Linked DNA regions of Homo sapiens. The protein of the gene in region 3 interacts with the protein of the main gene of each other region in a pairwise test. Each region holds a gene or a part of one and is shown on either strand. Other genes may lie near its edges.

What was found.
Region 1: the proteins of MAPK6 (region 3) and PHACTR3 interact in a two-hybrid assay, tested with the Homo sapiens proteins (one large-scale study listed by BioGRID and IntAct).
Region 2: the proteins of MAPK6 (region 3) and HAUS2 interact in a two-hybrid assay, tested with the Homo sapiens proteins (one large-scale study listed by BioGRID and IntAct).
Region 4: the proteins of MAPK6 (region 3) and CNTN1 interact in a two-hybrid assay, tested with the Homo sapiens proteins (one large-scale study listed by BioGRID and IntAct).

Annotation. Positions count from the first base shown.
Region 1 is NC_000020.11:59,603,247-59,608,187, reverse strand, and holds the start of PHACTR3 (phosphatase and actin regulator 3), read right to left. Parts: upstream 3,649-4,941; 5' UTR 3,174-3,648; coding exon 3,056-3,173; intron 2,957-3,055; exon of another isoform or gene 2,812-2,956; intron 1-2,811.
Region 2 is NC_000015.10:42,568,166-42,571,342, reverse strand, and holds the end of HAUS2 (HAUS augmin-like complex subunit 2), read right to left. Parts: 3' UTR 1,349-3,177; downstream 1-1,348.
Region 3 is NC_000015.10:52,063,393-52,068,744, reverse strand, and holds the end of MAPK6 (mitogen-activated protein kinase 6), read right to left. Parts: intron 4,844-5,352; coding exon 3,745-4,843; 3' UTR 1,370-3,744; downstream 1-1,369. UniProt on the Homo sapiens protein: Atypical MAPK protein. Phosphorylates microtubule-associated protein 2 (MAP2) and MAPKAPK5.
Region 4 is NC_000012.12:40,936,939-40,941,286, forward strand, and holds part of CNTN1 (contactin-1 isoform 1 precursor), read left to right. Parts: intron 1-631; coding exon 632-749; intron 750-2,396; coding exon 2,397-2,547; intron 2,548-4,348. UniProt on the Homo sapiens protein: Contactins mediate cell surface interactions during nervous system development.

The sequences.
Region 1 (4,941 bases), on a different chromosome or scaffold from region 3:
CACTAGCAATCAGGGAACTGCAAATTAACACAACAAGAAACCATTTGTCACCCTTCATGCTAGAGAAAAATAGATTGATGATCTCAGGTGTTGGCAAGGGTTTGGAGAAAGGGCACTCTCATAGATTACGGAAAGTGTGAATTCGTACATTTTCTAGGAGAGTGCAATATCATTAAAATAAAATATGTGGGTCCCCTGTGGCCTCAACATCCCAAGAGCTGGCACACACCCACCCTAGAGGAAATTCTCAGGTGAGTACAAGGCAGTTTGTGCCCAGGTAATTACAGCTGTGTTGTCTGTAGTGGGTAAAAACTGGAAACAATACAAATATCCAATGGCTAAACTGAAAAATTGTTTCTTGGCATCCTGTGTGGGTGTTAAAAGGGAAAGGGAGATGGATATTGCAATGAGGCAAGATCTCCGAGACCCAGTGTGGAGCAGAACCACTCATGGAAGAGCCATGAGTCCAGCACATTCCCATATGCCATTTTCCAAGCAACACAAGTATATAAAACATTAGGAAAAGTCCAAAGGATGCCCCTCAATTCCCAGCAGGGGTAACCTCTGGAAAATGGGAGAAAGAGGTGTCAAAACATAGCTCACCTTTTGAAGAATGCTTTGAGTCTTTGCAAATACTGATGCATTAAAAATGCCTTTGCAGGGGAAAGGGTGAACGCAACCTTGGACTCTTTCATTAAATTATAGAATTTAGATGGGAGGAGACAGCTCTGCTTCTTAACTCTGTGTGAGGTTATTCCACAGCTGGAGCTTCAGGTTCAATTTTCAGGAGTCTCACATTAGAGCAGCAGGTGGACAAATAAGGGAGGCTATCTAGGAAGAGCAGGTGAAGGGCCTAGACTTTCCAAGAAGTGACTGAGGTTGTTTCAATACCTAAAACCCCAGGCTCTCTGAAAGCCCTGAGTAACACCCAGCAGGAGAAGATCCCATCAGGACTGATGGGTACCAGACCCTTTGGAACCATTGGAAAAAGAATTCTTAAACAGATCTGCCCAAAGACAAGTATGCACTACATCAGGAAGAACTGAGTCCACCATCAAAAGAAGTATGCAGGCACACACCAGGCCAGCCAGGCAAGGTGCTTACAGAAAATACTCCCTGAGCCCGCCCTTCCTCCATCAAGTTCCCAAGTTCCCTCCAACTTGATGATTCTGATTCTCTTTCTGCCAGAACAGAAACACAATCTGCTTCACACAATCCATAAATACTTAATTGCTTGGTGCTTTTTAGTAAGGTTCTACTGCTCACAGAATTGCACATATTTTAGACTTTTCACCTCTGACACCTGTTCTCTGGGTCCCATTTAGACCAGTTGCACCAGAGGAGAGCTCAAGCCTGTGCCCTCCCACGCATAACTTAATCACAGGCATCCCAGCCCTTCCTCCTCCTTCTCTCATGGACCGGCACCACCTGCCCAACCCTCCGCTCCCACCCACAGAGGCATAAACTCACATACAGCCAAAAAGCCAAGTCCTCCATAATTTCCATTTCAAGTTTGCTTCCTCTTACTGCCAGGGAGACAAAGGGAGCTTAGAAGGATTCTCATGAGAAGCCACTCAACTTCCATGATTGGAACAGTTGTGGATGCGCCTCTCCAACCCAGAGAAAGGCAATCCATCATGGAGTGCTGAAGGCTGAATCCCCCATTCCTAGTAAAAGGATTAATTAAAACCTTAAGGGTCGGCCATGGCAGCCTCTGCTTGAAACTCTAAGGAAATTAACCTGCCCTCCCAGATAAAGAAAAGTCAGAGATTTATTCAGGCCGGTACCTTAGTTTGACCAAGTGACACAGTGTCAATAGTCTTAACAAAGAAATCTTCCAATACTTGCCCGGGTTTATTGTTTAAATTTTCAAATGGGGGGGGGAGGGATCCAGTGCCCACACAGCTGCCTGTAATGAGTCCTCTAGGCAGTTTATCGGGAAGCTCTGGTGTGTTCCAGTGCAGGAATCCCTCCCCACAAAGCCAGCCTTCACCCGGGCCCCAGGGATTCTGATGCCCACCATTTAACATCATCAAGTCCCCATCTGGGGTCGTTGCATTTAGAGAGAATAAGTCTTCAAAGGCAGGCGAAGCAACTTGTTATCAAAACAGAATCTACGAAGGAATTGTGCTTCTCTAAGATACAAAACTGAGTCCTGTGGCTTGATACCAAAACACCAGCTTTGATTCTTTTTTTGAACCCTACATTTCAGAAGCCCAGACTTCTCCCTGTGAAGTGAAAATTGCCTTCTGGTGGAGAGAGGTTTTAATGATCACTTTGCTTCCTGCGTCTCCATGGTGACAGGCGCACACAGCCCACCCCCCCCCCCACCTCCCCCCCCGCTTTATTAGGCCTTTCTTCCTCTCTGGAAAGTAATCAATCAAGCCCTATAGACGCCTTTGTGACCGGTTTATCACCTAAACAATCAACGCTGCCATGGGGGTGGAAGAGTGGACGGAGTCCACACGCTGTCACGAAACCGGGCTCTGTCCTGGCGCACGCCCTTCGTCTCCCTGCCGGCGGCTCTGCCCAGCACACCTGTCCGGGGGCTAGCGCGCCCAGGTGCGCCAGGCCCCGCTGGAGTCAGGCGCCTGGTGGAAGCCCTCAGCGCGGTGGCCTCAGCTGCGGAGCGCTGCCTTCCAGGAGCAGATGCCCAAGCGGGGACGTCCGGAGCTGGGGCCCGGCAGTGGGGAGGGAGGGAATGGCCCAGAACCGGCGCTGGGCGGAGGCGGCCACGGGTCTGCCTCTCTTCCCCCAGCCGGTCAGCACCCGAGGAAAGGAAGCCTCCTTCGAGGGGACGGCAGAGCTCACCAGCCGGAGAGGAGGGGAAGCTGCAGCGCCCGGCTCTACCCAGGAAATCAGCTCTTTTATGGACAAAGGGCTCCGAGGCGCCCCAGCCCTGCGAGACTGGGGATAGGAACCGCGGGGCCGAGCGCGGGTTCCTGCCGCGGCTCCCCGAATGCAGGCGGGGCGCGGAGCCTCGCGGGGTCCTGCTCTCAGCGCCACCTGCCTCGGGCCTCCCCGACCCGCCCGCCGCCCCCGCCCAGCCCGTTACCTGGGTTCTCCCCGGCGTCCGCGGAGGAGGTGGCCGAGGAGTCGGTGAGGACGCTGGGGTCACTCTGCGAGCGGCCCCGCGACACGAGGCAGCCGCTCCCGTCCTCCGACGCGGCCATGGGCCCGGCCGGCGCGGGGGCAAGTTAGAGCGAGCCGCGTGGAATCAGAGCATCCGAGGCGGCCAAGGTCACCGGCGAGGGGGCTGGAGGGGGCGTCTTTTTAAAAAAGAAAATTAAAAAAAAAAAAAAAAAAAAAAGGCCGGGAAAGGAAACGAGCTGGAGAAAGACGCCGGGGCTGGCTTCAGGGCGGGGAGACAATAGCCTCGCCGGCTGCAGCCAGGCGCATCCCGGCGTGCGCGGCCTCGCTTTGTTATTTATTCGTGTTTATTCCCATTCTTCAGTCTATATTCCAGGGAAAAAAAAAAAAGTTGAACCAGGAAATAAAAACTTTTTCTTGTCAGTGTTTATTGCGTGCTTGGGGCAGGGGGTGATGTCCTGGAATGTCTGGGGGCGCTCCCTCCCCCCACCCCACCCCCCACCCCCCCAGGAAAAAAGGGAAAAGGAAGAATCTTTGCTCTTGCAATTGCTTTAATCTGAAAGCTGTTCTTGGAGCATCTGTTGGAAAACATTAGGATTCTCCCATCATGCCGCGCGAGAGGAGCATGACGTCACGGGAGAGGGGCGTGAGAAGGCGCGTGGCCACTGGGAGGGGTCGCACATACCTGGACCGCGCGCCGGGGTGGGGGAGGAGGGGCTGGACCCCGGGTTAGGAGCCGCCCACCCCACCAAGCCGTGCTCTAGAAACAGGAAAGCTTCCTAGTCCCGTTTCCTCCCCTCCCGGAGGAAAGGGAACCCTGAGAGCCCCTAATTTCCCCAGCAGCTGCAGACAGCTGGTTTCCCTGGTCCTTCCTCTCCTGGGACTGGGAGGCCAGTGGGTCCCGACGCGCCCACCCCGGCACCGGAGGGGAGCGACCTGAGGCTTCCTCCCCGCAACCACCTGGCCTGGGCCTGCTAGGGCACCCCGGACCCTCCGAACCCTCGCTCCGAACCCTCCTCCCTGCCGGGGGGCGGGGGGGCGGGGGAGAGGGAGGAGGGCACGGGCGCTTTCCAATGAGGCTTTTCCTCAGACGCCCTTAGGAACCTGAGGGGCCAGGCAAGGGAGGCGACACCCCCCAGGGCTGCCACTCACAGAGGTGTCCTCCAGGGTGCTAAGGAGCGATTCTCACAACCCCAGCGGTGGTGTGGGGTGAACACAGGCAGGCAGCCGCTGCTTCCCCAGCCAGGGCAGGGAAGGAAGAAAGTCCAGGAAAGGGGTAGAGACGGGGGTGGAATGGTGGTGTCACCTGGCCTGGTCCTGGAAGGTGCCCAGAGGAGGAGGCATTTCAACAGACACCAGGATTCAAGGACCACAGAGACACCTGGGGGAGGACACCCCCATTTCAATTTCTCAACCCCATGGGGCAGCCCCGCTCTAAGCCCCCTTTGCAGGTGCTGGAAGGGGTGGGGGCAAGCGGGGAGAGTCGCTCACCAAGGGTCCTCCTGCTGGGGACAGAGCCCTCCCTAAGGCTGCCCCCATCAGATTAGCACCTACAGCAGGGCCTGGGAGTGCAGTGTGAGCGCTGGCAGTGTGGACGAAATCCCGGTTAAGCGCCAAGGACAGAACTGAGCGGGGTGGTGGTGGGGAGGGGGAATAAAGTGGATGTTCACTCCACACAGAGCTTTGGGCTCTTAGCAGCAGTTATTTCAGCAGCATCAGTCACCTCTAAAGAAAGGACTCATTCATTCATTCAGACTGTGTGCAGAGTCGAGTGTGTGCCAGGCACCACACCAGGCATTAGGGACCTAGCAGTGCACAAACACAGAGACGCCCCAACTCCTTGAGTCTTCC
Region 2 (3,177 bases), 9.5 Mb from region 3:
GTGAATTTTTCAAGTTGTCACAAAGCTCCAAATTTCCAATATATTTATTGAAAAAAAAATTGTGGCTGGGCACTGTGGCTCACTCCTGTAATCCCAGCATTTTGGGAGGCCGAGGTGGGTGGATCACGAGGTCAAAAGATCGAGACCATCCTGGCCAACATGGTGAAACCCTGTCTCTACTAAAAATACAAAAATTAGCCGGGCATGGTGGTGTGCACCTGTAATCCCAGCTACTTGGGAGGCCGAGGCAGGAGAATTGCTCAAACCCAGGAGGCGGAGGTTGCAGTGAGCTGAGATGACACTACTGCACTCCAGCCTGGTGACAGTGAGACCCTGTCTCAAAAAAAAAAAAAAAATTGCATATGCACTTCAAGCTTATATTGTTCAAGGGTCTAATGCATAATTTTTTTAGTAAACTCAATTAGTGGATTCCCCAAATTGTGAGATAAATCTTTTATGTAAATTCATGTGTTTTACAGATATGTGAAGAAATCCCACAATACACTAATTACAGTCTTATTAAAATCTCAACTCTATTATAGATTTTGCATGTCAAGAAATCTTTTAGGTTCTGCTATTCCTCAGACTGTTCCTGACTTCATTGAGGGTTTCAGAGGATAAATCAGGGGTCAGACTGGTAGAGTCACATAGAGAAAGAAAGAAAATAAGAAAAATGCTAGGAAAACCAGGCAGCATCTCAATTCCTCCAGAATGGTCTTCACAAACTGGCATCACTGTTATGCTGGCAATAAATTTGCAAATCTCACACACCTCTTCTAGTGTAAGTAGGAAACACAGACATTCAGGCTAGGTGCAAGGGGCTAACACCTGTAATCCCAGCACTTTGGGAGGCCAAGATTGCTTGAACCCAGGAGTTCAAGACCAGCCTGGGCAACACGACGAGACCTCATCTCAACAAAAAAATTTAAAAGTTAGCTGGGTGTGGTGGGGCACAGTTGTAGTCCCAGCTACTTGGGAGGCTGAGGTGGAAGGATCCATTGAGCCCAGGAGGTTCAGAGTGCAGTGGGCTATGATTGTGCCACTGCACTCCAGCCTGGGTGAGAGCAAGACCATCTAAAAAACAAGAACAACAACAACAACAAAAAAAGGCATGCAGAGCTAATTTTTTTTTAATATCCACACATCTAAAAGTTGAATAATTAAAGAAAAATTAATCAGCACTGATTGACTCTGGAAGAGTATTAAATTAGCTTTCTCTTTGAAGTAGACCTCAGGCTTAACTTACCTCAAGCTCTTTTGATTCTGAGAGCCTATATGCCTATACTGTATAAGTTAAACAGTGCATCAGTCCTTTCTATCACTTTAAATTCAGACTAGGACTAAAAAATTTTAGTTAGAAATTACAAGTTTATTTTTATATTTTGAAAAAGGCATAATAGAAAACAAAAATAAACAACCAGGCATATCAATATTTGTGACATACACATACACACAAAAATGAATATAGGAAATAACACGAAGAAAAAGCATAGTATGTTTTGAAACCAACGTGGGGTATGAACAGATTTTTGATGAAATACAACTAAAGGTTTTAAGTGTCTATGTAATGTTCGAGATATTACGATCACTCTTATCCTACTAGCAAAAATTAGCAAACTAGGCTTTAAAACATGATTCCTGTTGTTTTAGCAGGATTTATTTTGGTAATGATCCTGCTTCCTTATAAACAACTACTTATCATTGTTGAAGTCTTCTTGTGTTAAGGAGTACAATGAGGCCAGGCGCAGTGGCTAACACCTGTACTCCCAGCACTTTCGGAGGCTGAGGCGGGAGGGTCGTTTGAACCCAGGAGTTCAAGACCAGCCTCAACAACATGGCAAAACTCTGTCTCTACAGAAAATACAAAAATTAGCCAGGCGTGGTGGCGCGTGCCTATAGTCCCAGCTACTTGGGAGGCTGAGGTGGGAGGATCACTTGAGCCTGAGAGGTCAAGGCTGCAGTGAGGTCAAGATTGGGCCACACCACACTCTCAGCAACCTGGGTGACAGAGTGAGATCCTGTCTTTAAAAAAAAAAAAAAAAAAAGGAAAGAAAAGAACAAAACAAAAAACAAAACTGATGTACATGTTTTAAAGCAAAATAGAACCCCAAGTCTAAAAGTAAAATAAGCCAAGGTTAGTTACAATACTGATTAAAAAGAGTATATCCTGAGGCAGTTGTTAGTATATCACTCTCTATTATATGCACAATAACCTCTGATAGGTAAAATATCTGAGCATTTTGCAAGGTAAACCTCCAAAGTTATACCACAGTGTGCCTTTTTCTTTGCTGTTTCTTCTTTGCCTATTCCTACAGCTACCAGTAAACACTTAGGAACTGCTTTGTATGCCAGGGTCTCCAAGACTACCTCCAGGTTCCATGATTTGCTAGGAGAATTCACAAGACTCAGCATATCATCACACAGCTATGATTTATTACAGCAAAAGCATATGAAGCAAAACAGCAAAGAGAAAAGGTACAGAGGCAAAGTCTGGGGGAAACCAGGTATAAGCTTCCAGAGTCCTCTAACAGTGGAGTCACACATATCTGTTGTTTCATTCCACCAGCAACTGAATTGTGACAACATGTGAGAAATGTTGTTTACCAGGGAAACTTGTTAGAGATACAGTGCCCAGGGTTTTTACTGGGGGCTGGTCACGTAGGTACCTTCTACCTACCATGTACCAAAATTCTAGACTCCCAGGAAGAAAGCAGGTTTTCAGCACAAACCACAGGTTAGCTACCATGAACGACTCTTTTCAGTGAGTGGAGCCCTCCTGTTAAGGTTTAAATATGTCCCCCAAAGTTCAAGTGTTGGAAATTTAATTGACATTGTAAAAGTGTTATGAGACCTTTAAAAAGTAATTAGGTAAGGAGGGCTTTGCCCTCATTAATGAATTAGTGCTGCTATCTTGGGAGTGGGCTCATGATAAAAGGCTAAGTTTAGACCCATATATCTTTCTCATGCTCACTTGCCATGTGGTGCCTTCTGCCATGGCAAGACCCTCACTAGATGCTGGCACCATGTTCTTGGACTGCCTAGCCTCCACACCTGTCAACCAAATAAACTTCTGTTCATTATAAAATACTTAGTTTGTGTAATTCTGTTATGACAGCAGAACAGACTAAGATACCTTCTGATATCTAAGTTCCCAGATGCAACAGCTGAGGACAAACC
Region 3 (5,352 bases):
GGTCAGCGGTTCAGACAACGGTCCACTTGCTGACTAGATCACTAACTAAATGTGCTCTATATAAAACACACCAAAGTATCAAATGGAAAACAGTGCTTGCAAATAATTTCATAACCAATACTATGCAGGTGTCTTAACTGAGAAGCAAAGGTGATGTTTGCTTGGATTTTATTTGAAAACCCGATTTGATTCATGATCTACTTCTCCTTAGGTATGGACCCCAGTGTAATGACATAATTGGCTCAGCCTTTAAGATTTAAAGCCTCTGTTCCCAAGCTGCAGTGGCTGGAGCAATAGGAAATGAGAAACAAGGCAATCTCACATTGAAGTGGCTACTTAAGGATCCCTAAGGTGTAGTCATGATTTCCAGCCATGCAGTTGTTTGGAATTAGAAATCCTGATTCCTACTGTAAACTGAACATTGCAAAGCTGGTAGGATTAATTCAATGGAAGAAACTTGGTTTCTTGCTTGGAGGCATGTGGATGAATAAGAACTCTTGTGCATTGCTGGCAGGAATGTGAGTCAGTACAATCACTTTTGGACAGGGACATGGCATCTTCATAGACTTGAAGATATGTAGCAACTCTACTCCTATGTATCTGCCCTAAAGACACTCTTACACATGTTCACAAGAATTCTCACTGCAAAGATGTTGGTAGAAGCAAAATTTTGGAAGATGTCATTTAAGAAATACGTTGTGGTGTAGCAATTAAAACTAAAGCTATCAGGCAAATGATAAAATAGAGCAGGGGTGGCCATACTCATGTCAGAAAAAAATGCTTTACCGCCAGGCACAATGGCTCACACCTGTAATTCCAGCACATTGGGAGGCTGAGGAAGATTGCTTGAGCCCAGGGGTTCAAGACCAGCCTGGGTGACATGGGGGAGACCCTGTCTCTATAAACAAATTTTAAAAGTACTATAAAAAATGTAAAAACTAGCTGGGCATGTTGATTCATGCCTGTGGCTCCAGCTACTCAGGAGGCTGAGGCAGGATTGCCTGAGCCTGGGAAGTCAAGGTTGCAGTGAGCTATGATCATGTCACTGTACTGCAGCCTGGGCCAGAGAGTAAGACCCTGTCTCAAAGGAAAAAAACAGTCAAAAACTGTGACAAGAGACAGAGTAGAGAACCCAGAAATAAATTCTCATCTATATGGTCAAATGATCTTTAACAAAGGTGCCAGCTACTCCTAGGTACTCAAGAGGTTGAGGTGGGAGGATCACTTGAGCCTAGGTTCAAGGTTGCAGTGAGCTGTGATCACACCACTGCACTTCAGCCTGGGTGGCAGAGAAAGAAAGACTTTGCCTCTTGGAGTATTTCATCTTCATTACCCTATAAAGATACTTTGATTGCAAGTGGAGACAAAGTAATTGGCACATAAAATTTTTATTGGAAATTGACTTTACAACTTAGTACTCAGCCTGGGTCACCCTAAAGCAAGCATATTTTATATAAGGGGTTTCAGTTTTACTTTCTTCTTCCTTTGATGACTATGTTTGGACTTTTTAATGCCAACAAGTCAGATCATTGTGTAGATGGCCACTAAACTGCCAAGGTGACAGTTTAACGAATGTGGATTAAGTCCAGGAGCCAAGTTTCCCAGTAAGAAAAATCCTAGGTCTCCTTCAGGGAAGACAGCATTTTAGAGTCAAAGCTAATTATTCTCAAAATCAACATACGTTTGCAAAAAATTGGTTATAATGGAGGATCAGGGACCAATGTCTGCTGCCCGTTGCTTCCTTTACATCCTGTCTGATGCTCTCATGACACTCAAAGCCTCTGCACTTGTCACCCCACCCAGCTCCAACTAAAAGTGTCCCATTTTTTTTTTCCCCACAAATCAATTCTCATGACTGCACTTCAGAGCTTGTCCTCTTAAGGTAATTTGAGTATGTTTAAATTAATAACGTGACAGTATTCAACCAGAAAATAAATAAATGAATATATATACACACACACACACACACACACACACACACGTGTATATATATGGCTTTGTGAATCCAGATGAAGTCAGTTGTTGAGAAGGTAGGTGGGCAGATATTAATAGAATTGGTGTTGTACAAAACAAGGATGAAAGAAAAGTGAGGTGAAGAGGATGGAGTTGTTGAGAAGGTAGGTGGGCAGATATTAATAGAATTGGTGTTGTACAAAACAAGGATGAAAGAAAAGTGAGGTGAAGAGGATGGTTTTGTAGCTGGATAGGTAAAAGGGTAAGTTCTTACGCAAAGATGTATTACAGAGCAAATCTCAAGTTTTCTGACTGCACAGTTCAAAGTTTCAACTACACATTTTACCTAACAGTTTTGAAATATTATAAAGCTTTATTCCATTCTAATATGTGATGGTTTAAGTCAAAAGACTTGAACCTTCTCAGCCTTTCAGACTAGCAATTTATGGCCATAATTCAAAGTGATTCTGGTAGTAATTTTCATTCTAGCAGAAAATTTTCATTAACCCAAGAGTGAAACAGGAGCTGTATTTGCTGGCCATGTTTTATTTGTCCTTTTTCTTCAAACAGGATAACCAAAGATACAGACAGTATTCAATAAAATAAAATAGATGAAACAAATTCTAAGAGACTGCGATGCCACATGCTACGTTTAACCTAATTTTATTCATGCTTGCCTTGGGATGGGGAATAGATCATTCAGTAAAAACATACAGTAAAAACAAAATGTCTTATCATGTACAACTTTCAAACTACAATAATGATGTACCTTAATTACTTCCATGCACACAAGTCTAACATTTGTTTTTTTAAAAAATAAACACAATTAAGACTTCTAGGAGCATTTTATAATAAAGTAATTCCTAATTAATTTTTCTTTGTAGATAGATCAAGCACCTCCAAAATACAAATTCCTATACACAGTGAGCACGTTACTTAAAATGAACACTTAAGTAAATTAAGTACGTGGACAGCCTTAGGATAAGCTGACATTATAGATGCAGCTAGGTAGGCAACAAACCATAGTGCCAAATGGAAAAAGTAAAGTATATTTGCAAATAAATTTTAAAAACTAAGTTAATTTTTTATAATTAAATACAGAAAATATACTGATTTGCTAAAATAAATAAGATGTGATGTATTAACACTTCACTATAAAGAATGCATACCAGAACATTTATAAACAGTGAGTGAGTTTTATTAAGAATAGTTTACTACAATAAACGCTGGCTAAATAGAAGTGCATTTTGTGAAGCACTATGGGTGGTATATGTTTTGCCACATACTCTTGTTACCTTGAGGTAGATAACACATGTGTACCAAATTCGGCATTCATTTTCAGTTGCTGCTGGTATCATGTGTTTTAAGAAATGTGTACAGTATGAAAAACTTGAAAATATTCATGAATGAAAAATGTCTTAGGAAAAAAATAGCTATTTTCATGCAATTATGTACAGTCTCACTGTGTAAATTTCAAGGCAAGGTTTGTTTCCTGTAAAACAGATCAATGTTCTATGAGAGAATGTTCTTGTCTTAGTGCATTTCTTTTCTCCTCCTGCGTTGCATTATTTTGCTCTAGTCTTTATTTTTGTGTGCAAATGACATGCCAGTTAAAATGAAAACTATCTCACATGTAGAAAAAGAAAGTCTGGATTTTAAAAAACAAGAACTCATAAAATCCTTACTAAATGACACCATCTGATTCAAGTAAAAAATGACTTAAACACTAGTAATAAAAAAAGACAAAACACATTTCATGAAGAATACAAAGATAAATGTCTGCTGAGTGTTTTAGTTCAGATGTTTCAGAATGCTGCTGTATGTTTGATGAGGAATTTGAGGGGAAGATTTCATAGCAGAAGGTGTTAATGTGGCCTGTATTGACTTAAGTGGTGACCCAACTGGACTGTGAAACTGTGGGATGCCTATGGACTCGAGCTGCTTGTTAAAGAGGAACTCCCCACTGTTGTTCAGAAATCCTTCCTCATGTCCTCTCTCCCCAAGCTTCCCATCCTCTACTGGCTCAGTTTCTAGCATTTCAGTATCTTCTTTCCTGCTAAAGAACTTGTCCAAGTAACTAGTGTAAGTGTTTTCCTTCTCAACTTGTTCATCCTTCCTTACCTCACAAAACTGATTTATGAAAAAACAGTCCTCCCCACCACTCACAAACTGGCTGTCCCAAGAAGACTGGTACAAGGCTTCTAATTGAGCCAGATTTGCCATTCCTTTTTCCTGTTTTTCTTGGCTTACTGACTTTGATATCAAACTTTTCAATTCTAGTTGGGACACTGAGCTATTCAAGTCATTTAATTTATCAACAACATCAGTAGGCTCATGCTGGGAACTAAGCTGAATAGTTCCTGCAATAAAGGAATCAAAATCAAATCCCTGATTCTTTTCCCTTTCTTTTCCAGCCAGTTGCTGTGATGCTTCCTCTAGCGCTATCTGGGCTTTAACCAATCCATTCCTTTCACATTTTGATTTGCCTTTCTTATCAGATTTTTCTTTGCTTTGTTCTTTCCAATTGGAAAGATCTATAATAAGCTTGGGTTCATAGTAATGGTTAACTTCACTCTCTCTCCAAACTAAGTTATCTAAATATGATGATGACCTCGTTTTGTAGTTACAAGTATGGCTACACTCCAGATCACAATATTTGTTTTCATGATGATCTGAGTATTGCCAACAAGGCTCAGTAGAGTAATTGGTATCAAAAGCAGGATCCTCCAGATACTTTTCCCGATCTCCATCCAAATATTTTCGGGGATCAACTTGTACTTCTTCTTCATCAGTGACATCGGACAGAGCTCTTGGATCAAGCTGAACTTCATCAATATCAAAGTTGTTATGTACAGGCCAATCATGCTCTGAAAACTGACAATCATGATACCTGAAAAAAATCAATACACTAGCGTTATTCTACGTATATGATTTCATTTTCAAATTCACCGAGTACCTTCTATGTGACAGCACTGTGCTAGGTCTATGAGGGGATAATTATAGGAGAGTAAATATGCCTGCCTTGCCCTACCAGAACTTAGTCTTGATAGGAAAGCTCTGTTAATATATTTGGTAATTGCCAATGCAGTATGTAACTTCATTTCCAATTTGTTTTTTGTCCACCAGTTCCATGCAAACAAAAGACTTCATAGCCACAAAATGCAGATCTCAAATCTCAATCAGGTACCTTACAAATGTTTACTCTACAGTAAGGGCAACTAGAAGAGGAGGAGGTTTGCTAAATGTTTACTCTACAGTAAGGGCAACTAGAAGAGGAGGAGGTTTGCTGGAAAACTCATCACCATGAATAGCAAAAATCTCCCTGTGTATACGTGCTGCTGAATGCGCTATCCTATTACTGACATGTATAATCATTGAGGGAAAAGAAAAGAGATTAGA
Region 4 (4,348 bases), on a different chromosome or scaffold from region 3:
TCCCTGTTCAAGCAGTGTTTCAGGGTAGTCCTGGGATAAATTTAGCAGGAGAGACAATACAGAAAGGGCACTTGGGCCCTGAAATATAAAAGCTTCCTAAAAAAGACAAAAACTGAACATAAAGTATCTTCTTTCAGTTTAAACAACTTTCTGTAATCTTACTCTACCTTCTCTCTCTCTCTCTCCTTATTTTTTTCCTTTGTTCCACTTTTCCACCCTCTTCCTACTCATCCATCTCCAATACCTGATATTGTCCTCTTTTTCTTGCCACTATTTTCCTGTACCCCACAGAGACAGAGGTAAGAGTGAAGCTCTAAGTCCTACCTTTGGCCCTGGGGACAAGTAGCAGCAGTGGGATTCTTCTCTACCTTCCCACTGTAATCTCCCAGCTGGTCCAAGAGGGGAAAAGGTGGACTCTCAGCTCTGTAGGATGAATAGAACAAGAGCCTTTGGGCATGGTAAGTGGGTTTTCCTTTCCCATGCCATGAAAATCCCACTCAGTTCATCTTAGGTAACAGTGGGGGCAGATGAACATAATGTATCTAAATGAAAAGACAACCAAACCCAGACCTAAGTGAAAGTATTTCTATTAAAGTTCATTGAGAATATGTTTCAATTTTATTCTTTTCAGTATCATAAAGGGGAATTAAGACTGTATGATGTGACTTTTGAAAATGCCGGAATGTATCAGTGCATAGCTGAAAACACATATGGAGCCATTTATGCAAATGCTGAGTTGAAGATCTTGGGTCAGTATCATTTCTAATTTCTGTTAAACATTGTTAAAGCAATATGTCATATCACACAAAATGTTTATTGAGCCTACACAAAATACCCAGTATTGTGTTAGGTGTACAACATATGTTGGTTGTTTACTGATTTATTTATTGCTAATTATCATAATTCAGACTAACGAAACAATGGAATAGAATGAATCTTTGCCACAACAAAAGTCTTCTTCAGAGCATCAGCAGCAGTGGCCATACCTAGGAGCACATTAGAAGTGCAGAATCCCAGGCTCACCCCAGACCTACTGAATGGACACTTTAAAAAGATACCCAGATGATTTTAATACAAAGATAATTTTGAGAATGACCAGACCAGAGGATGAAGAGTCAAAACCCAGATGAAGATATGCTTAGGCCTAGAAAAGCCTCCAGAAAGTACATAGTTACGGATGATTGTAATGTGTTGAAATATATGGATGAAATCTGCTTGGAGTCTGCCAAGGGAAGAGGAGAGTGAGCAGTGGATTAAATGTGTGGATGCTGAGGAAAGTCTGAGCATGACATCAATGAAGTAACCTTTTTTAAGCCTCTGTATTCTGTTCTAATAATTATTGCTCTGTACTTGGAGGTAATGATGAACTACAAATGATCATGTCTCCTTAATTAGTTGATTAGATCCATTATTCCCATAGCTGTTTATAGATAGATCCTGAAAGCAGGACTCCAATTATTTTGGCATTTTGCAGGGTGTTTGCATACAGATGATGCTCAGTAATTGTATAAAGAAGGAGAGACTGCATTGTTTAATGAAAAGTACATGCTTTGGAAACAGAAGGACCTAGATTCAAATGTGACTCCCACTTATTACTACCTGTGGTACCTTTGCCAAATTAAATAATCCTAATAGATTTCAATTTTCTCATTTATAAACTGGGAATAGTTCATTCAACATGTGGTTTAGAGGATTGACTAGGACCATATGTCAGTGTGTATAATGCTGGTCAATTTTTTCCAGCCTTTCACTTTACTTTCCTTGTGGAATTGAGTCAAAGCAACAGAATTCAGAGTTAATTTTAAGGTAAATGTGTATAAAACATTTGATTGAAATTGAAGTTATTTATTTATTGAGACAGGGTCTCACGGTGTTGCCCAGCCTGGAGTGCAGTGAGGCGATCACGCTTCACTGCAGCCTTGACCTTCTAGGTTCAGGTGATCCTCCACCTCAGCCTCCTGGATAGCTGGGACTACAGGCATGCACCAACATGCCCAGCTAATTTTTTTGTATTTTAGGTAGAGATGGAGTTTTGCCGTGTTACCCAGTCTGCTCTCAAACTCCTGGGTAAGCCATCTGCCCACCTCAGCCTCTGAAACTGCTGGGATTATAGGTGTGAGCCACCCATGCCTGGATTCTAATTAAAGTTTCTAATAATCAATTCAGTTATCATCAAGAATTGTACATTTGAATTGGGTGAATTTTATAAGTCAAAGTTATTAAATAAAAGTTACAAAGCATTAGGTATAGAATGCCTATTGGTGACAGCTGATCATATTTACCGAGATTAATCCTTTCCATTAACTATTAAGGAGAATAAAAGATTCTACAACACAGAAGCAATGTTTAGGCTTTACAAACAGAAAGAGAAAGATAACAATTTGTTTTCTTTTTAGCGTTGGCTCCAACTTTTGAAATGAATCCTATGAAGAAAAAGATCCTGGCTGCTAAAGGTGGAAGGGTGATAATTGAATGCAAACCTAAAGCTGCACCGAAACCAAAGTTTTCATGGAGTAAAGGGACAGAGTGGCTTGTCAATAGCAGCAGGTCAGTGCTGAAACTAGAAATCCAATTGCAAAATCTGTTTGAAAAAGTTTATTTTATAGAAGACTTGTTTATATGTTAATAATGAAAATGTTTTTTGCTCTGAATTTTTTTTTTCACAGAAGATCCTGTAGTTCTAAGATGGACAGAAATACCTATCCCTGTCAGTATCTATTATAATGAAGGTTTAATTAACAGGACTCTATAATGTATAAGGAATTTAGAAAATTGAAGCTCAGAGGTGTTTTTTTGTTGTCTTGTTGTTATAAATTGCCCAATGTCACACAGCTAATAAACAATGGGAAATAAAGTAGGATCTCTCTAACATATTTTTCCCCAGTATAGGCATCTGGCATCTATATCCATTCATATTCAACTGAATTTTGTGCAGTTAGCCTATTAAATATTTTTGTAGAAAAATAAAAAGGTGATTTCAAAGTGCAAATAATCTCTTCCTATCTCAAAATGAACAAGATGTTATCATCATCTTCCTTATAAATGGACCATCTACCAATGTTTTGGTGGTTTGGGGACAAAATGAAAAAGCAGTGTACAACTTATATAGATTATTTGTATAAAAGCCACACTGAATAGTTTATATGTATCCTAGAAGAAGTAATATTGAGTGCAAAAATTATGACGAGGAGAAAGCCAGGATGGGAAATGGGAGGGATGGGATGTGTGGGTTGGCTTGAGGGTGTATGTGAGGGTGTATGTGAGGGTGTATGTGAATGTGAGGGCAGCATGTACAAAGGCCCTATGGTGAGGAGTTTAGAATGTGTAAGAAATTGCAGAAACTGAAATCAGTGTGATTTGTCTTTAGAGGAAAATGGAGGAGACTTTTAAGAGATGAGACATAGTAAGCCACATCATAAATGACAAAGTTTTCTATGCTAAGGGGCTTGGGCTTCATCTAAGAGTAATATAAATCTGTTTAAAGTCTTAAACAAGGGAGGACAAGGATCACTTTTGTCATTTGAAAGACTGTTATTACTCAGATGTAGAAAATACATTATTTTCTTCACAGTAACCCAATAAAGTAACATGGGAATTATCATCCATATTTTGATGTGTCTAAAGCTTGGTAAAGTTAAAGTGACCTTCTGCAAAAATATATTCATGCTATCTAAACTAGAACTTGAAGTTGTAAGACATTGATATAAATTGAGAATATGCCAGCACAGCCCTCTTATTAGGATGAGCACAGGCACGGCTGTTTATGGAATGGGGCAAGAGGGCAGGGACATCAGGGGCTTCCCTGAACACACTGACTTTTAAAGTTAATATGTTTGACCTCAGGGTTGTTAAGATTTTAACAAAATGATACTACAAGAAGGGTTAAAGGAAAAGTCCATTTGTTCAATTTGCCGCTGAAACATTAATGGTCAGACAATGAGCAATGCAGAGACCATGATCAAAGGGCAGCTACATGTGTAGGTGCTTACTCCTTCCACAGCCTAGAGCAGGGCATTCCCCAATGGACAAACCATTAGTTCTCTTCCGTGATAATAAAATCTTTTTCTGATTCTGATGAAGACCCATGTCATGGACCTCTTCAACCAAGGATTTCCCAGAACTATGTTTCATGGACTTGTTTTTCCTAAATATCAATATGTGTTCAAAAAAAGAAGAGAAAGATCTAGCTCCTGAAATTTTACAAGTTTGATTGTGTTCTGATATTTTTAAAGCCTTTGAAATCAAATTGCATTATTTCCTTGATTAAAGAGTCTATAAATCTAATTTTTACTTAGTACTTTAACCCATTACTATCTCAGTGTAAATACTATTTAATAGTAGATATAGT